Linked DNA regions of Homo sapiens. The protein of the gene in region 2 interacts with the protein of the main gene of each other region in a pairwise test. Each region holds a gene or a part of one and is shown on either strand. Other genes may lie near its edges.

Region 1 (8,319 bases), on a different chromosome or scaffold from region 2:
ATGAAATTCTTGGTCCCAAGCACGCATCCTGGGTAGGGTCGGATTTTCTCCAGGACTGTGCAGTGTTTCACTGAGGGCAAGGGGAAATTTCTACTGTGAAAGGAAATGTGAAGGTGGCTTCCAGGCTAGTTCCAAGAATCCATTCTGTAGAGCCACATGCTCTGGACTTCATTCACTCTTAAGATTCAGCCAGACTGGCCTTGGTCTCCCATGACCCCAGATGGCCAAGATCCAGAGACACATGGGTCTAACCTGTGGCTTCGGTTTTCATCATTGCTCTTGGCCAAATTTTGATGGGGGATAGGGGTGGAAATAGAGAAGAAGAGCAAGAGGAGAAGACAATGATTCCTCGTTTGACAGATGTGGATTGGGCTCTGCATCCAAGCCAGCATGATACTAGTCACTGGGTACAGCAGTGAATTTGTGAGGTAGTCTTTACTCCAGTAGACAGGAGAGAGGAGGGCTGGGTGCATGCAGGGGTGAGGTCAGAGGATGTGGGCATAAACGTCGATGACGGAAATCAGGCTGACACCAAAACCAATACCATTGGTGTTAAATGGGGGTGATACAGCTGCCAGCAGTGGGCAAGTTAAACCACTGGTTGTTGACTTGCACATAGCCAGGGGTTTGCGTGTAGACTGAGAGTTGGACTCTGAACTGGGGGTGAGGCAGGCACGTGGACAGACCAAGCTGGGTGCGAGCATGTAAAGAGCCTCAACGATGGGCTTGAACTCCATGAGTCATCCAGACCACCAGGCTGGTGAGAAAAGCTGCTTTCCCACTAATAGATGCAGAGGTTATGGGGTTCTCCAGCACGGTCAGGTACAGATGCCTCATTTCCACGTGTGACCGGGTGAGTGAGTGTGTGTGAGTGTGTAAGTGTGTGAGTGGGGGACTCTTTACTTCCTCTCCTAGGTTTCCATCTCAGCTCACCAAATAGAAGTTCCACTTACACTTCAGCAAGGAGTGGCCACTTCCATCACTGAAACCTGCCACCAATAGGGTCCCTCTTACTAGTGGGTGCAGTCCCTCCCTCCAAAGCAACAAATGCATTCTGTGCTCTCTTGGGCCCCTGGCCCCGCCTGAACTCAGGCACGGCTTGTTCTTCTTCTGAGCCTCCTGGGAGCTGATGGAAGGGAGGTCAGCCCACAGCCTGGCTGGGCCTTGGTCATCTGGCTTCCGGCTTCATGATTTAATGGCTCACTTGGGAAACTGAAATCTAGGAGCCATGAGGGTGATGGTGGGGACAGGAGGAAGCTCAGATGTAAGTCGATCCCCCAACATGGTTTGCAGGGAGCCCCTTCTTTGGGTGATAAAGCCAGCACATTAGCCCCGCTTGCCTGCGCGGTCTGTGTTTGCACGCTATTGGCCGGCACCAGAAGGAGAGGGGGGTACTGGCGCCAAACCGCTGACCACCCAAACCCATGAGCCCTGTGTGGCCTCACCTCCCACTGGGTCTCCTCCAGCGCGGGGCCGAAGCTGGTCTTCTCCCTCTCGTAGGACCTGAGCTTGGTCTCCAGCAGGTCCTGCTCCTTCATGAGGCTCTCGAGCTCCTGCCGGAGCTGCCGCTTCTCCTGCTGAAGCTGCAGTACCTGCAGGTGCAGGACCTGCTGCGCGCGCTGGCTCTTCTGCGAGGCCTGCTTGAGCTTGTTGCCGCCTTTGGGCTCCGGGCCCTCCAGCTCGTCCCTGCAGCGCCGCGGCCGCTCCTCGTAGGCCAGGCTGGAGGCAAGCTCCTTCTCCTCAAAGCTGCGCTGCAGCTTCTGGAGGGCGCCCTCCCTCTCCAACAGCTTCTGCTCCAGCTCCTGGATGCTGCACTCGTCCGTGGAGATGGGGGAGCGGACACACGAGGGGCCCTTGTCTGCCTTGTTCGAGTGGCCCAGCTTGCTACCTCCGTCGGAGAAGGACAGAGCCTTCAGGCTCATCATGTTGCTGTCCTGGAGGACGATGCCCTGGGTGATGTTGTGGGCGGAGCCCCCAAAACGGCTTGTGGGTCCCACGGGTGTGACCAGCGGGTCCAGCTGGTAGCTGCTGCTGGTGCTGTGTGTGGGCAGGCTGGACATGGAGTTCCGGCCGGAGTCTGACAGCGCCCCAGAGCACAGGCCAGGCTTCAGCTCCTGCTCCTTGGGCTTGTCTGGAGGGGCGGGGTGCAGCTGGTGGCTGGCACTCTCCGGGGAGGAGTGCAGGATGGCTCCTGACCGTGGCAGCACAGGCTTGAAGGCTGTGGGCCTCACTGCACCCTTCTCGGAGCCCTGTAGAGGAAAAGGACCGCGGTGACTCATGCCTCCCCTGCGCGCGCATTGCACCCTCCCTCCCCAGGCACGCGTGCCGACCTTGAGCCAGTCTGGGCTCTCTGAGCGCACGCAGCACCCCTCTTGGTCAATTGTCTCAGCAGACCTTGCCTGTTGCTTTGAAGCAGCTGAATGTCATCTCTCTTAGGAAGGAAAAACCCTAATGGCGACTTGGGCACTTTGTTCTATGAAATAGCAACCTGCCACCAGCTTGCCCCAGCCCTCCCGAGGTGATAAATACCATCTTGAGGCTCCTGCTCTAGGTCTCTGTGTGGGGCAAGTTAGGGCATCAGGCTGGCCGAGCTTGCTGTCCCTCTTTAGGTCCATCCCTTCTTCCTGTTCACTGCCTCTTCCATTAAGCCTGGAGCAAGGACACGGACCTGGCCTCCTTACAGGGTTGGGAGGCTCACTCCAAATCACGATCCTTTTTTAAAACTGTAATTTTCCCTGGTAGAGTGCTTCACAGTTTACAAGCCCCTTAATTTGAAAAGCTGAATGCTCTATGCAAACATAAGAGGCTCTTTCCTAGTAAATCAAAGCCGGGGATTCATTTCCCCAGGGCAAGGGGCAGAGGACTGAATAGGAAAATTGATTTCAGTGTCCACTCGTGGGACGCACGAGGGCTTGAGCTGGTGTGAGGGCTGGATTTCTCAGTGCCTGGGCCTCCTTTGCCCTAATCTCTGGTAAATGGATGACAAAACTCCAGCCTGTATTCAAAGATGCCCCCAGGCGCAGCTTGAACAAGGAGCTAATGCACACCAGGGCAGCAAATGAGAAGACCGCACCCACCCCCACGAGTCTCCCGGGGAGAGAAGCGGTTAACTCCCGGCCTGCATCCTCTTCATCTGTGCTTCCAGATGAGAACAGGGCTCCCTCTCCTTCCCGAGGCTTGGCAAACGCCTGGATCCTACGTTGACAATCCAGCTACATTTCAGTGGGACTCCAGAAAGCTCACATATCCCCTGTGCTCTTTGCTTATGGCCTGACCCAAGACTTCTGCTTCAGGGGGACTGAGCGATGCTCTAATTCCTTTGTGAAACGTTTGATCTCTGCGGTGTGGCCACAGGCTTCCGCCGGCACCCCTGCCGCTCTGGTTTTGAGGAGTCTGAATGCTCAGGTCACCACTCCCCCTGAACCCCCAGGCTCTCCACCCCCATTTTGCTTTCTCCTGCGTTTCCAACCCACTTACCCTTGCCAGCGACCCCCGCTTACCATTTCTAGCTGATTGGAGAAGGGCATGAGCTTGGGGGGTGTGGACGGGTCAAAGTCCACCCCAGCCTGGCCCCCTAAATCCCCGCTGGACAGTGCCGTGTAATCTGGGTGATGGGAGCCCCGGGCTTTCTGGCTGACCTTGATGTAGAAGAAGTCTTCGCTCTTGCCCATTTTGGAGCTGGACTTGCCGTGACCGGAGTCCTGGGAGAAGCCAAACCTCAGCAGCCCGTCGGAATACCGGTTGAGCTTCTTGAGGTGGGAGGACTTGCGCAGCTTGTACTGCGAAGCCCGGCAGTGCTTGCTGTGGAAGCTGTGGCCGGAGATGAGGCTACTGACGCTGCCCATGGTGACTCGGGGCTGAGGATGGGGCAGGGCCGGGCAGGGTCTTGGAAAGGCTGTGGCAGCAAGGGGCAGTCGTGGCTCCGTGAGGGGACTGAGGTCATAGCAAAGCCCTCACAGAGCCTGCGAGAGCCGTAGACCTGGAAGAAGACACAAGACAGAAGTCAGCGTGGGTGGGAGTGGTCACAGCACAGTGCTGATTCCGACTTCCAGATCTGGGCAGTAGAGAAACACATGTCAGAGCCCAGCACTGTCTCCACCACCGGGTGCTCCGTTCCTTCTTCCTTTGTCTGATAATTCAACAAACATTCACTGGGAGCCCACTTCATGCAAGCCTCTACTCTAAACACTCGGGACCCAGCAAGTGACTAAAACAGTCACAGTCCCTGCATTCCTGGAACTTAGGGTTACAGTGGTGTGGAGAGGCCAGAAGCAAACCAATGTATACTATAGCAAGTGGTACCAGTGCTGCGGGTACCAGTGCTGCGGGTACCAGTGCTGCGGGGGAAACTGGAGCAGAGAGGACAGAACAGAATTCTGGGAGGTGGCTGTTTTATGCAGGAAGGTCTTCTTTTGTTAGGGTAGCATTTTAAAAGGCTTCAAGAAAATGAGGGGGCAGCCAGGCATGATGGTTCACACCTGTAATCCCAGCACTCTGGGAGGCTGAGGTGGGCAGATTGCTTGAGTCCAGGAGTTCGAGACCAGCCTGTGCAACTTAGAGAAACCCCATTTCTACTAAAAATACAAAAATTAGCCGGGCGTAGTGGTGCACACCTGTAATCCCAGCTACTTGGGAGGGTGAGGTGGGAGAATCGTCTGAGCCCCGGGGATCAAGGCTGCAGTGAGCCACAATTGTGCCACTGCACTCCAGCCTGGGCCTGACTCAAAAAAAAAAAAAAAAAAAAAAAAGAAGAAGAAGAAAAGAAAATGAGGTGCAAGTCATATGAAAATCTAGGGGGAGAGGGGTACCAGAAGAAACCCCAAGTATAAAAGCCTGAGTCCCTGAGGCAGAGGGGGCTTGGCTGTGTGAGACCCACATGGGAAGCAGCCTGGCTGGAGAACAATTAGCAAGGCTGGGAAGGAGAAACAGAAACCAGGAGCCAGCAGACATCAGAGAACAAGGAGGCTGTGCAGCTCAAAGAGCTCTGGCTTTGCTTGGGTTGAGACAAGGAGCCCCTGGATGGCTTTAAGCAGCTGACACCTTGATCTGCCTTAGGTTGGGGAAGGTCACTCTGGCTTCCGGGTGGGGAAGAAGCTTATTGAGGAGACGGGGGATAGAAGTGGTGGCCAATTACAGGCTAATAGTCTAGGGTGGTAGTTGTGGATTTAGATGTGGTGGTGGCTCACGTCTGTAATCCCAGCATTTTGGGAGGCCAAGGCAGGAGGATCACTTGAGGCCAGGAGTTCAAGACCAGCCTGGGCAACACAGTGAGACCCTGTCTCTAAAAAACAGTTTTCAATGTAATTTTGAGGTTGAGCTGACAGGACTTGCTAAAGGATCAGATGTAGGGAGTGAGCGAAAGAGAGGAGTCAGGGACAATGCCAAAGAGAGGAGTTTGGTTGAAGACATTCAGTTTGCAAAGCCTATTTGGCATCCAGGGAGTGATGGAGAGTAGGCAGGAGGGTGAGTGGGCAGCTGCTGGGAGCTGCAGATGCACTTGTCAGAGCTGGGAGTGTGGAAGTGGCTATGAGACTAGATGGGGTCACCAAAGAGCGGATGCAGAAAGACAAGAGAGGCCTGAGGATGGTTAACATGGAGCACTCGGCATCTGGAGGTCAGGCAGGTTAGGAGAAGTGAAAAAGAGCAGCAGAGAAGGTTTTCAGGGTGATGTCGATATAGAAGACCTAAGAAAGCCAAGTCAAGAAATTGTTTCCTAAAAATGGTGTCAAATGGCCAGGCGCAATGGCTCAAGCCTGTAATCCCAGCACTTTGGGAGGCCAAGGTGGGCAGATCACTTGAGGTCAAGGGTTTGAAACCAGCCTGGCTAACATGGTGGAACCCCGTCTCTACTAAAAATATAAAAAATTAGCCAGGCAAATTGGGCATGGTGGCACGCACCTGTAGTCCCAGCTACTGAGGAAGCTGAGGCATGAGAATAGCTTGAACCCAGGAGGCGGAGGTTGCAGTGAGCTGAGATCACGCCACTGCACTCCAGCCTGGGCAACAGACTGAGTTCCTGTCTCAAAAAAAAAAGTTGTCAAGTGCTGCTGAAAGTAAGATAACAATTGAGAATTAGTCAATGCATTTGGCCATGTGGAGATCTTTGGTAACCTTGACAAGAGCAGTTTTGGAGGAATGGTGGAAGGAAGGCCTCATTGAGAAGATTCAAGAGAGAAAGAAGGAGAAAGTCATTACAGCCTTAATGTTGAGAAGTACCCAGCCGACTTGGTGTGCATTCTAGTTACATCACCTGCCAGCTATGACATGGAAGGTAAACTGTTTAATATCTTTAACCTTCAGTGTTACAAACTAATTCTAAGACACCCTTAAACTTTTTTTTTTTTTTTTTTTGAGATAGAGTCTCACTCTGTTGCCCAGGCTGGAGTGCAGTGGCATGATCTTGGCTCACTGCAACCTCCACCTCGCGGGTTCAAATGATTCTCCCACCTCAGTCTCCCACATAGCTGGGATTACAGGTGAGCACCACCATGACTGGCTGGCTAATCTTTGTATTTTTAGTAGAGATGGGGTTTTCCCATGTTGGCCAGGCTGGTCTCGAACTCCTGACCTCAGGTGATCCACCTGCCTAGGCCTCCCAAAGTGCCGGGATTATAGGCGTGAGCCACCGGACTGGGCACATTTTTTTTTTAAAGTAATAGGATAGCATCTAATAATCAATGCTTAAACAATAACAACCTTGTCAGTCACCAGACAGGAGAAATTGGGATGTCAGTGCCAGCACATGTGCAGATTCAGGCAAATCTCTAAGTTTAGATCACACAATTTTCAAAGCTAGGAAAGGTTGGTGATTGTCATGCACTGTGAAGTATTTCTTAGTCAAAAGACAGATATCCAATTAAGAAGGGGAAAGCCACAAGTTTAATAAAACAGGAGATGTGGAAGGAGCCTCTGTTCTTCGCTGAGCTCTAAATTATACCATCCATCCTAAAGGGGCTAAAGAAATCCCAGGTGGGACATGGAGAACTGCATGGGCACAGCTGAAAGGGAGCCAGAAACTTTCTGACTCTGTTTTTTAATTTTAATTTTATTATATATATATTTTTTACAATTAGCAGTTGTGCATGGAGACTCTGTGACTCTGAATATCTAGGCTTCGATTCAAACTTGCGTTATCATCCTGAAGAATAAAGAGGTTATGTTATGAATATGTTCTATATTTTGTTAGGAAAAGCATGACACAACAAAACTTCGTTGTGTAAGTTTAATATGTTTTGATGTGAAAAGCTTTTATTGAATTGATGGCTTTGTATACTCGAGGAAATACAGTGAAGCAGCCTACCTCATAGGATCGTTATGAGAAATTTAAGAAATACCACCATAAGATAACAGCTCTGGAACATTTACTCAATACTTAGTACATAGTGGGCACTCAATAAATGCTAGGCAGTGTTATCGGTATCTGTTACTTATATTGTGACCATTGTCCTTGCCAACATCCATCATCCCTATGGATCTGGGGAGCCTCAATGTCCAAACTCACTTTCCAGAGCTAATCCTTTCCTTCTAAATGCAACCTTTCTGCCTCCCATTCCTGCGAGGTGTGACTTAGGAGCACAGGGTGGCTCTGCTGATATAAACTTGACACTGACAAAATGTGTTTTCATCCCCCTAGGTCATCCATCCCTAGCTTAGCTAACACCTCTAGTTCCTATGGGGCGAAAATACTACTCTGGTCCACATGCAGGGGTGTCATTTTGGGCCAAAAGACCCTCCCGTGCTCTGCGCAATATGCTCAGCTCCTCCTTTTTTTGCCATGCAATACACATTGCCGAGCAGCTGTACCTGCAGGGCTGTACAGACCAGACCATCAGCTGTGGCATCGGCAGGAGTTTGATTTGAAAATCAATCTCTCTGAGGTTTCTTCATTTACAAACTGAAAATATTAATATTAAATAGGAACATTAGGGAGCCGAAACAAACAGAAGGAAAATACAAGGCCTGGCATGTAGTAGGCGATCTACAGATGTGTGCACGATATGTGTTGCCTTCAAGCCTATGACACCGCTGGAGGCTATTGACAGTATCAGTGCATCGGTGCTAAATGAATCTGTTTATGGTTCTCATCCATCTCCTCTCACCTCCATCTCCTCTCACCTGGGCCTTGAAGGAGCCTCCCAATGTCTTTCCCCAGTCTGTTCATCAGACACATCTGAAGCGTCCAGGTCATAGCACTTCCTAATGGGAACCCTTCCAGTCTTCCCACTGTGTTAGAGTACAATGCGGACTCCTCACCTTGTCCCGCCATGTCCCAGGGACAGACACACTCATCTCTTTCCTGGTGGGTGAACATACGAAGTC
Region 2 (7,912 bases):
TGTATAGCCTGCAGAACCATGAGCCAAATAAACCTCTTTATAAGTTACCCAGTTTCAGGTACTCCTTTACAGCAATGCAAAATGGATGAATACATCAACCTAACCCAGCCTCCCTGTTTCTCCCCCTTGACCTCCACAACACTTCCACTCCAGAATGGGAGACACCATGAGGTTCTCTCTGCAATACCCAATGTAGCCTGAGGGGTGAAGCCATTTTAGCCCATGGAGCAGTTACCTGGGTCATGCCCTTAGCAGGGCTTGGCCAACAAAATGCTAAATAAGCCGTGAATCTTGCCCTGAGGAAGTGAAAAGTTTTATATAGAAGAGCAACACTGGAATAATTGGCATTAGTACACTGCTCAAGTCAGACAGACATATTGCAAATACTCAACATTCTTGACCCCCAAAATCTATCAGTATAATAAATATCATTGTTTTGAAGCTGGGTGCAGTGGCTCATGCCTGTAATTCCAGCACTTTGGGAGGCTGAGGCTGAGGCAGGTGGATCACTTGAGGCCAGGAGTTCAATTCCAGCCTGGCCAACATGGTGAAACTCTGTCTCTACTAAAAATACAAAAATTAGCCAGGGGTGGTGGTGCACACCTGTAATCCCAGCCACTCGGGAGGCTGAGGCAGGAGAATTGCTTGAATGCAGGAGGCAGAGGTTGCAGTGAGCAGAGACTGCACCACTACCCTCCAGCCTGGACAACAGAGTGAGACTTTGTCTCAAAAAAAAAAAAATCATTGTTTTGACTTGTTCAGTATGGTTTGTTACACAGCAGTACTAGCTGCAATGCCCTCCCACCTTCTATGTCCTGTGTTCATGAAGAAAAAGATAACTCGAATGCATGGCACAAATAAATAATCTTTAATTTCAATAAATAGCTCCCCATCACACCAGACATTATGCTGTGGAAAAAGATACAGAAGCATCCAACAGAGAGAGAGGAAAGAGAGAGAGAGAAAGAGAGAGAGAGAGAGATCTATTCTAACTACACTAATTCCTTAGCACGAGAGACGTGACATTCGTTCACAGAAAAACACAGAAAGATCCTCAGAGTATGATTAAGGAAGAAGATCATCATGGATGGGGTGTGATAGCCATTTTAATCCATATATCAAGTCTTTGTATGTCTTTCGTGGGTCACAATCACCATGATTCGGTCAAAAAATGTTACTTTTGCTCTATCATATCCTATTTACTTTACACACACACACACACACACACACACACACACACACTACTTTTATCCAAAGTGGGATCTCTGACAGACAGGAGGACACTGGTTGGACTCTCACTGGACAGGAGAGGCAGAGAGAAGGCAGTGCTCAGGGCTGAGGTCCTGGCCCATCGCCATGCTCTCCAAGAGGACACATAGGCACACACGTGTTCGCCTGTGAGGGCACATGCACGAGGACATACACATACATACCCACAGGGCGTTCCCTGGGATGAGCTAACACAAGAACAATTCTGTTAAGCCAGGAAAGGCTTCTGACACTGGAATAGTTTTGGTTGCCATTTGGTTTCTCCAAATGGCCCATAATCTAGTTATCACATTTACTACGGAGAAGACAAAGATACTTACACCTTTGGAGAAAGGTATCAGGTTTGAAGAACCCCAGGGAACAGCAGCCTGTTCAGAAGTTACCCAGTAGGTGTGTGTTTCGGAAGTGGGGGGTGTTCAAGTCTCCCACACACTGGCCAAACTCTTGGTAAATTTAGTCTTGATGGAGCTTGGCACCCTTTGGGAGGTCCTTTCTCTGGCCTGAGGGTTGAAAGTGCATTTTGGGGCAGGAGTATTGACAAGAGCAGGCACTGCCAATAAGTCCCACGGCAGAGCCCACTGAGCTTGTGATCTATGGATGGGGCTTCCGGAAAGTTCCTAGGCCTCACTCAACTGAGGGCGGCCATTTTGTGATCAATAGTCAGCTTCCTCTCAGTTCTGAGAGGATTTGGGGTATCTGTGTGTCTGTGTGTGTGGACGTGTGTAGACATGTTGCGAGTGTGTATGCAGGTGTGGATGTAATAGTATGTGACACATTTTTTTCCGTCTTTTTTTTTTTTTTTTAAACAAATGAAAGCTGCCTTCCCTGCAGCCCTCAGGTCACCTCCAGGGAGGCAGGAGACACGCGGTCACACTCAGCTCGGGACCTCAGGCTATGCCACTGCTCCACGGCTGTGCGGTGCGTGTTGAGCATGCGCCTCCAGTGGTTGGTCTCAGAGGGGCCTGAAGAGTACTGGCCAATGACGATCCTCCCGATGAAGTCATTGCTGCTCTTCATGTTGTGGCCGAAAACTAGGGAGCCAGAGGGTTGAGGGCAGGAGGGAGGCAAGAGGAAGGAGGGGAACAGAACAGGAAGGCAGGGAGAAGACAAGAGGCCATTAGTCTACACATTTGTCAACTGCAAACATGGGGGTCATCGTTTAGGGCACGCTGTCTTTTTCCTTTTCTTGGTGAGAAGTCCAACTCCCTCATCTCATCCTCCTGTGAGTCTCTGCAACAGCTGCACCTGGTTTCCTGCCATCCCATGCCAGCCAGATTCTTACCTCTCAGCCTTGGCATTGGCTGTTCCTTCTGCCAGACAGCTGCACCGCCTGCAATATGCAGCCTTAAACGTATGTCCCACGGCATCACCACACTGCATATAGAGCTCTGTAAGTGGATAGTTCTAGTGGAACAGTGAGCCTGTCAATGTAGTCCAGTTGAGCGATTAAACCAGGGTTTCTCAATCATGGAACTGTTGACATTATGGGCGGGATAATCCTTTGCCGTAACTGTCCTGTGGACTGTAGGAAGTTTAGCAGCATCCCGGGTACCTACGTACTAGAAGCTGGTAGCAGCTCTCTCTACAGCTGTGACAACCCCAAATGTCTTCGGACATGGCCAAATGGCCCCTGCGGAGGCCAATGCATCCCAAACGGGAACCACTAGGTTAAGCCATGGGCCATGGGACCAAATATCCTGGGAGTGAATCCTGGCTCTATCATTTGACCAAGCTCTGTGTCTCTGAGGCAGGCGAAGTAACCTCTCTGAGCCTCAGTTTCTTTATTAGTTAAACAGGAATTTTAGTAGTGCTTCTCTCATAGGTCAATGTGCAATTTCTATGAAATAATGTGTGTAAAGCTCTCAGCACACAGTGCCAAGCAGGTGGTAAGAGCTCAACAAATGTTATACTGCTATTTTGAGCCTAAATTTCTGTCTGTTGACCTTTTATAAAAGAGACTTCATGTTTCCTCTGTTCCATCAAATGCTGGAAATTTTCTGAGAGTAATGGCTACGGCAACTTCTTCCACCCCTTGTTGTGCTGCATGTCTCTTTGAAAGGCTTCTCTGTTAATCCCAACTTCAGCTTAATTTGTGTCTTTCAAGCCTAATGAGACGGTTAACTTGATTTATCTTCCCGGCCAAGTTCCGCCTAATTCTTGATCTGTGTGTGGGTAGTCCAGGCATGCCATCTCACTAATGGGAAAGCAGGCTATGCCTGTGTTATAAATGAAGGGCTACAGAATGGGAAATATCACAGATTCACCCAGCGTGAGCCGAGCAAAGGCAGGCTAGATCCCAGGAGGGATGCTGAATATCATATAAAGCAACTAAAATATGCTGCCAAAAACAGAGCTTGAATGCTAATGAGCCTCTGTTCTCCCCTGTGGGTTTCACACCACGAATTCCAAATGATGAAAATGAGGGAGAAAAAAGAAAAATGGAAAAATAAAAACAAAAACTCCATCCATCGTCCAAAAGCCAAAAAGACTTAGGGAAAACTAGGCTACGTGAAATACTATGTCATCTTCAGCAAGAGGGATGGGTACCTGTCAGCTCTGTGGAGAAAAATTGGACCATGTATATTTTTTGTACATTTGGTAACATGCTCAGTATGCATAGGTGGACCTCATTTACATGCAAATTACTTACAAAGAGAAATAATAGGAATGGAAGCTTTGCTTAATAAATGAAATTGCTAAGGAGCTCTCTGCATTTGAAAAAATAATTGAACAGGTAACACTCAAGGCTTTTAGGAATGACACTTAGTGGGCAGTGTAAGGTTTGATCTCACCAAATGAGGACAAGTTACCAGAGTCCCCTTCCCTGTGAGCCTCAAATCTAAAATAAGATACTATTATGAGACCACTTCAGGCCCCATTTAGTTTTCTTCTTTGGGGGCAAAATGTTCTATCTTCTTCTTCCTCTCCAAAGCTCAAGAATGACAATGCAGAAACTTCCCTTCTAAATGGGTATGGGTTCTACTTCTTTGTGAAAGGGCTTTAAGAAAGGAAATTCTGACTGGGCACGGTGGCTCGCATCTGTAATCCCAGCACTTTGGGAGGCTGAGGCAGGTGGATCGCTTGAGCCCAGGAGTCTGAGACTAGTCTGGGCAACATGGAAAAACCCTGCCTTTACTAAAAAATACAAAAAATCAGCCAGACATAGTGGTGTGTGCCTGTAGTCCCAGCTACTCAGGAGGCTGAGGTGGGAGGATCACCTGAGTCCAGGGAAGTCAAGGCTGCAGTGATGGTGCCACTGCACTGGCTCTAGCCTGGGTAGCAAAGTGACCTTGCTTGTCTCAAAAAAAAAAAAAGGTGGGGGAAATCTCAGTCTCACGTACTCTCATGTGCCGCTGGTGGAAAAGCAAGTTGGTTCAAATTTTGGGGTGGTTCACAGCATCTGTTCAAAATAAATATGTCATAACTCATGACTCAGCAATTTCACTTCTAGGAATTGATCCCATAGAATTTTCTGCACAAATGGACAAAAATACACATACAAGGATATTTTATATAGCAGGAATGGGCAAACTAGAGCCTCCCAGTCAAATATGGACTACTACCTGTTTTTGTAAATAAAGTTTTATTGGAACACAGTCAAACCCATTTGTTTACATAATGCTGCTTTTGTGCAAAAAGGGCAGAGTTGATGTCTTAGTCCATTCAGGCCGCTGTAACAAAATGCCATAAACTGGGTGGCTTATAAACAACAAAAACTTATTGCTCACAGTTCTGGAGGCTGGGAAGTTCAAGATCAAGCCACTGGCAAATTCGGTGTCTGGTGAGAAGCTGCTTCCTCATAGGTGGTATCTTCTCACTGAGTCCCCACATGGTGGAAGGGACAGGCTAGTTCTCTGGGGCATCTTCTATAAGGGCACTAATCCCAATTATGAGGGCTCCAACCTTCATGACCTAATCATCTCCCAAAGGTCCCGCCTCCTAATGCCATCACTTTGTGGGTTAGGAATTCAACATACAAATTTGGCAGGGTGGGGGACAACTATTCAGACCACAGCAGCTGAATAATTTGGAGGCCATGTGGCTCTCAAAGCCTCACATATCTGCTATCTGTCTGGTTCATCCATGTTGTAGTGCTACTTTTTATGGCCAGCTAACGTTCCATTGTATGGATATGCCATGTTTTGCTTATCTGTTCATCAGATGATGGACATTTGGGTTGTTTCCACATTTTGACTATTATTATGGATAATGCTACTGTAAACATTTATGTCCAAGTTTTTTTTTTCTTTTCTTTTTTTTTTTTTTTTTTGAGTTGTAATTTCACTGTTGTCACCCAGGCTGGGATGCAGTGGCGTGATCTCGGCTCACTGCAACCTCTGCCTCCCGGGCTCAAGTGATTCTCCTGCCTCAGACTCCCAAGTAGCTGGGTACAGGTGCCCACCACCATGCCTGGCTAATTTTTGTATTTTTAGTAGAGACAGGGTTTTGCCACATTGGGCAGGCTGGTCTTGAACTCCTGACCTCAGGTGATCTGCCCACCTCGGCCTTCCAAAATGCTGGGATTACAGGCATAAGTCACCATGGCTGGCCTATGTACCAAGTTTTTAAGGTCATATATTATGATCCATTTATATGAAATGTCCAGAATAGGCAGATCTTTAGAGACAGAAATTACCATTAGTGGTTATCAAGGATAGAGGAAAGAGGGAATGGGGTGTGATAGCTAATTGGCACAGGGCTCCTTTTTGGGGTGATAAAAATGTTCTGGAATTAGATAGTGGTGTTGGTTGCACAATCTTGAAAATATACTAAAAAGCACTGAATCGTATACACCAAAAGGGTGAGTTTTAAGTTATGTGAATTTTATCTCAATTAAACAAATTGCCAAAAGGGAATACAAAAAAAAAAAAAAGATTATCTGACTCCTTATAGAAAAGTTTGCTGACCCCTGCACCAGGGCATTGTTTATAAGAATGAAAAACGGGAAATGGCAAGACTGTCCCTGAGGGAGTGTAGCTGGGGCTGTTGGTGCCCTGCCTACCCCTCAGCCCACCTTGGAGGCTACTCATGGTTTCTATAGATAGTGTCCTTCCTCAAGCACCTGCAGCTTCCTGCCTGAGCCATGCCAGCTTGTCTGTGCTAACTGTGATTTATGGTGAGGACCTTGGGCCACTCAACATTAGCTGGACCTCTGCAAGCTACCTCTGCAAGGAGGCTCAGCTACCCAGATGGTCAGCCATGACTATATGACCAACGTCCTCTAACTATGCTGGACACCAAGGCTCAGGTGAGTCTTCTTGGGTGGCAATACCCTAAGTGTGTTGTCACACATCCTTGCAAGGAGAATTAGGCACTGCTCGTATAACTCCAGTTGAGGAGAACAACTGGAAGCTTGCATCTGGTCTCTCTTGGACTTTTTCCTATGACAAAGAGGACTCTTTCCCCTTTCTTAGTCTGCTGGGCTGCTATAACAAATTACCATAAACAGGGAGGCTTATAAACAACAGGAATTTATTTCCTAATGGTTCCAGAAGCTAGGAAGTCCCAGATCAAGGTACCAGCAGATTCAGTGTCTGGTGAGGGCTTGCTCTCCTTCATAGGTGGTGCCTTCTCATGCAATAGAAGCAGCAAGACAGTTCTCTTGGGTTTCTGTTATAAGGGCACCAACCCCATTCATGAGGACAGAGCCTTCATGGTCTAATCACCTCCCACATGGGGATTAGGATTCAACATAAGAATTTTGGGGGAACAAAACATTCAGACCATAGCAGCAATCTTTCACTTTGCTGATTTTGGTCTGTATGCTTTTTCTGTAATAAACTGTAACCATGAGAATAACAGTTTTTCCAAGTTCTGTGGTGAATCATTGGACCTGAGGGTGATTTTGAAGACCCCCTATACTGCAGATATCCACTCGCCAAACATCCTTGATTTGTTTTCCTCCTTTTCCTGTCTTATTTGCCATTCCCTTATTCAAGCTTCCTGAGGTCACCTCCTAGTAGCCTACTTGAGCTCATGTCACTAAGTTTGTCTTTGGGAGGTACCTAGAATAAGACTGGAGGAAATGAATTAAATAACTTCTGAGATAATAATACCACGGAAATCCATGTTGCCATTAAAAATGAGACAGACTTATCTATATGAAATGGAAAAATCTCCAACACATATTGCTAGGAGACAAAAGCACATTACAAAACAGTATATGTAAGCACAATCTTTTTGTTAAAAAGAATGTTAATATACCTGAAGAAAACAATATGGATGTTCACCACTGTTCAGAGTGGCTCTCTCTGGGAAGGGGGAAACAGAGGAAAATGTCCACTTTCTGTATCAATAAGTATGTACAGTTTGAACTTCTTACAGAAAGTACATATTATTTTGGAAAGAAAACAAAGGAAAAATAAGTCACTGTTAGAGAATCCACAACTAAATCACCAGAAAGGATGAAAACTAAAAGGAAGTCTAATATCCTATGCTCCTCATCCCAATTTGTAAAGTAACTTGGCTGGTGAATCACTTGGCCCTTGAAAGGTGGGAGCGCTTGAGTGATTCAGCCTTTCTGATGGGAGGCAGTTCCTGCCATGGCCATCTGAGTTAATTAGCAGGCAGTGTAAATTGCAAATCACTTGGTAAAGTTATGGCAATCTTAACAGTCTTAAAAAAATTTAAAATGCAAATTATA
Region 3 (8,319 bases), on a different chromosome or scaffold from region 2:
ACTGATATTTGACATTAGATCAACTTGTTTCTAATCCTAGGCTGCTTAAAGAAATGCACTTGTGAAATAATCTCTGAAGTATTTAATAAAAGCAACTGTTAATTCTATTTTCCTCATATACTTTTTTATATAACGGGAGATACTTTTCTTTGTATTCTGCCAAACATGAAATCATAAAGAAGTAGCAAACTTTACTGATATATGATCACACAGAATCAAAGCAGGATAAAGAACATGGGGAAACAATACTAAAAGGGATATATGTCATAATAACCCACATCTACATAAAGTAGTTCTAATTTGTCATTAATATTCAGGAAGGCAGAGAGATATACTTCACTAATTTGAACAATAAAAATCTTGCTGGGGAAAAAAGAAAGATAAAAGATGAAAAGAAAGAAGGGCTGATTCGACTGCTCGCACATGGAGATCAGCAGGATGAGGGAGCAACTGAGTCTGAAGAACTCTATCAGTAGTTGAGGTCAGCAATGGGCTAGCAGAGGTCAGGGTCTCTGAGGCGGAGCAGACAGGGGAATGGCCCAGGATCCGGCTCATGGTGATTCTAGCCCCTGCCAATACTCAAAAGCTACTTGCCAGTAACTCTTCCAAGGAAGCACAGCTTCTCTTCTGAACATTTTAAAGCCTATTAGAATACTACCAATCTGTTAGAAAAATTATTGGCCGGGCGCGGTGGCTCATGCCTGTATGTAATCCCAGCACTTTGGGAGGCAGAGGTGGGTGGATCATGAGGTCAAGAGATCGAAACCATCCTGTCCAACATGGTGAAACCCTGTCTCTACTAAAAATACAAAAATTAGTTGGGCGTGGTGGTGCATGCCTGTACTTCCAGCTACTCAGGAGGCTGAGGCAGGAGAATCACTTGAACCCGGGAGGCAGAGGTTGCAGTGAGCTGAGATGTCACCACAGCACTCTAGCCTGGCGACAGAGTGAGACTCCATCTCAAAAAAAAAAAAAAGAAAGAAAAATGAATAATTATTGCACATTTCTCAGATTGAACAGAACTCTCTAACCACAAAATGAAAATAAAAAATTCGGCTGGGCACAGTGGCTCATGTCTGTAATCCCAACACTTTGTGAGGCCAAGGTGGGATGACTGTTTAAGCCCAGGAGTTCGAGACCAGCCTGGGCAACAAGACCCTGCCTCTAAAAAACCAAAAAACAAAACAACAAACTCATTTTACCTGAATTTTCGGTATATGTTTTACAAGTAAGTAGGTCAAATAATAAATGAAATGTGGATGCTACCTAGGCATTCCAACATTACATCTTATTTCTCTTGCTATAATGCTTCAAAAATCTTTCCCTACAAAAATTAAAGAGAAAAGGGAGCTAGAAAAATGGATCTTTTAAAACTAGAATATATATTTAAGAGGTCATTGTTCATCCACTTAAACATGTGAATTATGAAGAATTATACAGGATACTACCCACTGGCTGAGTAATGGGGGTGAGGAGGGTTTAATCACTGAAGAAAGATCTCCCTGACTTACCACATACTTTTGCTAACTGAAATCTGATGATGAGACGTTAAGGTTGGACCAAAAACTGAAGATGCTGCAGTAGTAATGGACACTATGCTAACCTTGAAGAAGTATTAGTGAATGCTAAGAACTGACTAGAAGTGACAGAGTTTGAGATAAGAGGTTAACTACATATAAGAGGTCAAGCAGGCCTCAAAATGGAGAATGTAAAAGATATTCGGGAATTTGAGACCAGCCTGACCAACATGGAGAAACCCCGTCTCTACTAAAAATACAAAATTGGCCGTGGGTGGTGGTGCATGCCTGTAATCCCAGCTACTCTGGAGGCTGAGGCAGGAGAATTGCTTGAACCCGAGAGGCAGAGATTGCAGTGAGGTGAGATGGTGCCACTGGACTCCAGCCTGGGCAACAAGAGCAAAACTCTCTCTCAAAAAGGCCAGACGCAGTGGCTGACGCCTGTAATCCTAGCACTTTGGGAGGCTGAGGCAGGCGGATCACGAGGTCAGGAGATTGAGACCATCCTGGCTAACATGGTAAAACCCCGTCTCTACTAAAATACAAAAAAAAAAAAAAAAAAAAAATTAGCCGGGCATGGTGGCGGCTGCCTATAGTCCCAGCTACTCAGGAGGTTGAGGCAGAGGAATCACTTGAACTCGGGAGGCAGAGGTTGCAGCGAGTCGAGATTGTGCCACTGCGCTCCAGCCTGGCAACAGAGCAAGACTCCGTCTCTTAAAAAAAAAAAAAAAAAAAAAATTTAGGTAATTTTTTTTTTTAAATGTTAAGGAGAAAAAAAGGTAAGTGCTGGGATGGGCTTATCAGCTGGACTGATTTGTGATACCACAAAATAAATAATCCTCAAATACAGGTTTAAAAAACAAGTTCTGGTATCTTGCTGTTAACTAGCATTTTCCATCAACATTATTTTCAGATTTTTATCACTAATGTGAACTTGCTGAAACCTACGATTTTAACTTATACGTAAAGCAATTAAGTAAAATGAACTTTTCACCATTATGTGATTTTTTTTTCAGATCTCTGCATATATTACTCCCATTCTCTGGAATGCTTTCTCCATGTTTTTTTTTTTAACCTCAAAAATACTTATTTTCTAAGAAGCAGTGAAAATGTCACTTTCTCTGTGATGCCTTGATTGCCATAACTATTCTGTTCTGCACATTGTACCACCTTATTACAGCACCTAACACATGTAATAATCACTTCTCCACGTCTGTCTTTCCCAAAAAGAGCTTCTTGAGGGAAAAAGTCAAAATCTTTTTAGCCTTTCCTTTCCAGAGACTAGAACATAAAGAACACCCAATAAATTTATATTTGTTTCCCAAAGTTAACAGAAGTTTCACTCTGTGAAAAGTAGAGTACATAATACTAAAACAACTGAAAGGATATTTGACATAGTGGTTATGATTGTGAGCTCTGGAGTGAGAAACTTGGATTCAAATCCTAGCACTGTCATGTGTGATACTGGGCTACTAAATATTATGCCTTAGTTTCCTTATCTATAAAATGGGGATATTTATAGTATCTAAATCATCAAATTATAATATATGAAATAATCTCATATGTTATGAGGAATATTATAAAATGAGACAATGCTTATAAAGCACTTCTTAACAGTGCTTGACATGTATTAATTCCCCGGAAAATCATCTCCAGCATTTTTCAGGAAATGTCTGAAAACACATAGGAACAGTCTTTTCAGTTGTCACAGTAATTGAAAGTAGCATAGCAGTTGAGTGTCCTATTCAAAATACCAATAGTGTCCCCATTGAGAATGCCTACCACATATTTTAATTATTCTTATTAGCAATCTGAAGACTGTATTAGAGAGGAAAGAGCCACTTACAGTTCCTGTACTATCATCTACTCTTTCTCTAGGTTTCTTCTTTTGGGGAGAAAGAAGAGAAATCATTTCCTTTTTCATTTGTTGAAGAACCTTCTTAAGTTCTGCATTTTCCATTAGGATTTGTTTCTGACGATATTCATAATCATTCAAGAGAATTTTATACATTTCATCTTCATTCCTGAGAAAGAAACTGTCAGTATGAAAATGCAGGATAGAAGGAAGTCTGATTACATTTATCAATTTAAACTGGACTTTACCTGGCTTCAGTTTTACCAGTCCTCCAGGAGCCTCTTTTTCCATCAGCTCTCCCGACATAATTCAAAATGTCCATAGCTACAAACATGAACACATAAAATTAATTCTTACCATACATGCTTAAGCATCTAAAACTCTAATGCATTCTATACACGTAAGTGGTGAAAGTGAACCTGGTATATAGGTTAGGATTTGGGCTTAAACAGCCTAATTTTCGAGTTTCTAGTTCCACCACTTGTAAGCAATGAGATCTCGGCACATTATTTAACTGCTTAGCCTGTTTCTTCTTGGACACTGGGAATAACAAAAGTATCTACCAAAGAGTTGTTGAGAAGACAAAGAAATAACTATTAAAGCACCCAACACAGTAGAGTGAACACAGTATCTGGCGCACAGTAAGTACTTAATAAATGTTACCTTATCATTATTAATTTCATTATCAGGGTTGCCTGATAATGGCCCACAGGCTGGCTGCCTGATTTTGTAAATAAAGCTTTATGGGAACACAGCCACATCTACTTGTTTATATACTGCCTATGGCTACTTTTCTTGTTACAATGGCAGAGATAAGTAGGTGCAACAAATAAGTTGTAGATCCCATAAAGCTGAAAATGTTTACTATATGGATCTATACAGAAAAAGTTTGCCATGTCCTGTTAACATTAACATCATCATTTTCATCAAAGGAGTCAAAGCCCCTGATAGTAGTAATATCTTCTGCTGCAGGTGGACATGGAAACATTTGGCGTAAAAAGGAAAAAGAGTAAATTATTATAATCTTAGAGTTAATAAAATCATTATGAAACTGTCACTTCCGATTGGACCAGGAAACAGCCAGACCGCTATAATGGAAGAGCTCTGTTTCCAGAACTAAATCCTTAATAAACTTCTCTGTGTTACACTTTATACTTTCAGCATTTCATCCTGCTTTTTAATTTTTTTCCTTCATGAATGAATATGAGGCTAACTAAACTTAAAAACCAATGATTCTCCAAATGAGTAAGATTAACTCAGGATACCTAAAGATTTCCAATCTTAACGGCGCATTACTGAATCTTCATTTCTATTTTTCAACAATTTAAAAAATAAAGTATTCAGATACCTCCAACAGCTCTGCTGCAGAATGACAGTGATGTAGTCAACACTAAACTGCTTGCTGACAGCAGGCAGAGTCTACCACATGACAGCCTGAAACGTACGCTCATCGCCTGTTTTTCAAATCTAAGGTAAGACAGTTTAGGGGTGTCACGGTATAATGTATGTTAGAGGACTACCTATAGTCACTAGGAAACCACTCTTCAATAAATAAATACACACACTTCTTGTGCCTCGTATTTATACCAGGCCAGCAAAACTGTATTGTAAAGCTCTACTTTCGTGTTTCTTTGCTTTTTAATTTACACTATCTACTTGAAATTATCCACATATTTGGATGAAATGGCTTAAAGTTTTGAAAAAGACTACTATTAGGAAAAAAGTATACCTTAGACACACACACGCCTAACTTTTATAGTCCATCCTTTTGACTAGCTGCTCCAAAAATGTACAGCTAAACTTATTTAAAGGAACTCAAACTGACATGAACGATTTGGTCTGATGAAAAATTTTATGAGGTTTACTCTAAAATACTTCTTTTGATACTCAGAAACTGACACTGATTTTTAATATTATCAGTTCTTTGCTATGGAAAATTAGAATGTCCTCTGGCTTAGTTTTCCTCTATGGATTAATTCTACACTGGTCATGTTAAAAAATACATGCAATTAAATAAAGCAAGGCAGAATGACTTACTTTCCACTAACCAGTTGTCTACATTTTTTATATAAACAAACACCACTGAAAATCAATTGTATAAAGCATGAAAATAACATTTCGTGAGTTACTGTGTTCAATCCTTTTACAATTATTTCTAAGCATAGTATTAGCTTATTTATTCTCTTAGCTGATCTTTGCCAGCTGTTTACCTATTTTCTTATCTTTCTTGTTCATAACAAGTTGATGTAGACGTTCCTTCAGTTTATTATATTCACGCTCTTTTCTCTTCATATCATGATTATACTGAGTAGCTCGACTTGCAATGATATTTTGTAATTTTTGCACCTGAAAAAGGCATTTGCTATTATAAGCCCAGTAACGATTCACAAATTTGAAAGAGAAAAATCCTAAAATTCATCTCCCCATATAGGTTTTAAAATCCTAGGATGATTCTTCCTTATTTGTAACCAGTAGAAACCACTTTTTTAAATATTATATGAATCACATAAAGTTTTTTTAATTCTGAAATTTCCAGAAGCGCTAATTTTCTAAATTATCTCCTATACCTTTTACCTTACATATAGACTCTGATCATTTAAAAACCAGATATTCTTATGGAAGTATTAAAACGATTAAAACTTCATCTGAGATAAACAGAATTCATCTGATCATTTTTAGTGAACTCCTTGTATTACTGACTTACAATCACTTATACTTTTTATTAATCTGTGACAAAGTGAATTAAGCCTGTGACACATGGCAGCAGGTAAGCAGGCTCGTTTTTCTAATTAAAAACAATTCTCGAGTAAGAGTAAGTCCAAACAGCAGAATAATCCAGTCCAAATATTTGCTGAGTATCTACTAGGTGCCAGACACTGCTGTTCAAAATTTAGATCTATTATAGTTTCTCAGGCAACTCCTGACAGAGTATGTCCTATTCTTTTATAAAGCCATTCCCAGTCCCTGCTAGGGATCAACATGATTAACTTAATCCCTACCGAAGATGAGCTGTATTCAAACCGTTTAAATATAATCAACAGATCTAGTCAAAATTGTCTGTGAACTCAAGGAAACACGTACAAGCAACCTTACAGTTTAAATACTAATTACCTACTACTTACTAAATATACTACTAAATAAACAAATATGGTAAAACAAATCTATCTAAACCACTCCAGGGCGCTTTAAAGAAATACACTCCTCAGAAGTCTTTAATTGTAGTTAAAACAACATATAAAACACTGAAACTAAGTATTATATTTTTATAGTTATTACATGGTCAGGGGTCATACTTTAGAGCAATAAAAACATAATAGTTTCTTTCTACACAAATTAAAAAATATATTTTGAAATGCATTAGTGCTATAGGTCCAAGTAACCACTAAAGTAGAAATTAGAATTCTGCTAAGTAACCACTAAAGCAGAAATCAGAATTGTATCTTTTGTGTCAGAAATTAGATTTTTAATGTGAACTGCTTCTGTGCCCATTTAATGAAGAAACTGGTTGACTAGACGAACAATGTCAATATTTAAGACAGTGCATGCAAGAAGGGGCACCTCAGCTATCACGTACAGGTACAGCAGAGAATAAAAGATCTGCATTTAAAGCACTCTTGTGCCTAAGAAAAAGTGACAGTGAACATGAGTCCAGGAAGGGCAGTCCAGGACACTGGCTGTTACCAGCTATGAACTAATATCTAAGCCAAATGGATCCACTGGGGGCGGGGTCTGTAGTGGAGAGGGTTCCTGAGCTTCCAGTTAAATACTATTACACAAAGGTCCACCATATCAATTTGGGGAAAGATGAATAAATGGTTCTTTCTTTTTTCAAGTAAAGTGGCTCTTATGGTCATCTCATATTACAAAGAAAACAAAAATTCACTTAAACTTCATCTGCAATAACTGACAACTCACCTCATCTTTCTCATTCTTTAGTAGCTGATGCAAATTCCTGTTCTTACATTGTAACTGTCTGTCTCTTTCCTGAAGCCCAATCATTTCCCTCCTGGAGGTTTCCAGTTGTTCCTAAAACATTTATAAGCAATTTTGCTTAAAATTAATAAAGGATTTAGAATAACTGAATCCTTAAAATATCAGTAACAAGAAGTTATACATCCTAGTGTTTATTAGTCAAAATCAAATGTTAGTGGCACATGAAATGTTTATTTAAAGGAATTATTACAAAGCACACTATAAAATAACATTTAAACTTACACATCAAATTTTAATCTACATATCAAATTTTGTACACATATACAAAAGTGCTTCAAAATGGATCCCTGGAAAGAGCATCACTCCATGATGCTGCCCCTGAATATTTTTAAAGTTTATTTTTAATACTTTTTAACACTTCTATACCACACTTTTGAAGATCTCCTCAAGTACAGCAATGTCATCATCCTTCGAGAGTATACTTGGCTTTGAAAAAGAAGCAAAAGTGATTTGGAGCTAAGTCTGAAGAAAAAGATGGGTGACCAAGCAAAGTGGCAACACATCAAGTCACAGAAATGGGACTTCTGTGTGACACCACTTCTCCCTGCAAGTGGTAAAGTCTCTGAAGGTACTTCCCAGAGCGGAATGGCAGCAAAGCCAGAATTAGTATGAAACAAGATGCTCCTTTTCAACTTATCGCATCTGAGGAACTGTGCCGAGTTCTGCATGAGGCCACCCATATGGAATATTTTTAAAATTGTACTAATATTTTTATAAAATTCAAAAGCCAATCAAATTATGTCTTAACCGACCATAAATAATAACTTGCACAATTTCTGTAAGAACAGATCTCAAGAAGGTACAGAAAATGTAGGAGTATAACCTGGATAACTCTAAGGTTGTCAGTTTTTGGCAACCTTTTTTTTTGAATGTGTAAAACTTACTACTAGGGTAGATCAGTTGGCATGACATAACTTACAGGCACTAGGCCAGGTGATATGTAGCATATATGTC

The links. The genes of interacting proteins can lie anywhere in the genome.
Region 1: the proteins of SYT17 (region 2) and LZTS1 interact in binary tests that used the Homo sapiens proteins (3 or more experiments, as listed by UniProt).
Region 3: the proteins of SYT17 (region 2) and SSX2IP interact in binary tests that used the Homo sapiens proteins (3 or more experiments, as listed by UniProt).

The regions. Positions count from the first base shown.
Region 1 is NC_000008.11:20,251,337-20,259,655, forward strand, and holds part of LZTS1 (leucine zipper putative tumor suppressor 1), read right to left. Parts: intron 3,980-8,319; 5' UTR 3,846-3,979; coding exon 3,501-3,845; intron 2,250-3,500; coding exon 1,446-2,249; intron 1-1,445. UniProt on the Homo sapiens protein: Involved in the regulation of cell growth. May stabilize the active CDC2-cyclin B1 complex and thereby contribute to the regulation of the cell cycle and the prevention of uncontrolled cell proliferation. May act as a tumor suppressor.
Region 2 is NC_000016.10:19,261,268-19,269,179, reverse strand, and holds the end of SYT17 (synaptotagmin-17), read right to left. Parts: intron 2,301-7,912; coding exon 2,104-2,300; 3' UTR 848-2,103; downstream 1-847. UniProt on the Homo sapiens protein: Plays a role in dendrite formation by melanocytes.
Region 3 is NC_000001.11:84,658,835-84,667,153, forward strand, and holds part of SSX2IP (afadin- and alpha-actinin-binding protein), read right to left. Parts: intron 7,399-8,319; coding exon 7,288-7,398; intron 5,719-7,287; coding exon 5,583-5,718; intron 3,697-5,582; coding exon 3,621-3,696; intron 3,542-3,620; coding exon 3,364-3,541; intron 1-3,363. UniProt on the Homo sapiens protein: Belongs to an adhesion system, which plays a role in the organization of homotypic, interneuronal and heterotypic cell-cell adherens junctions (AJs).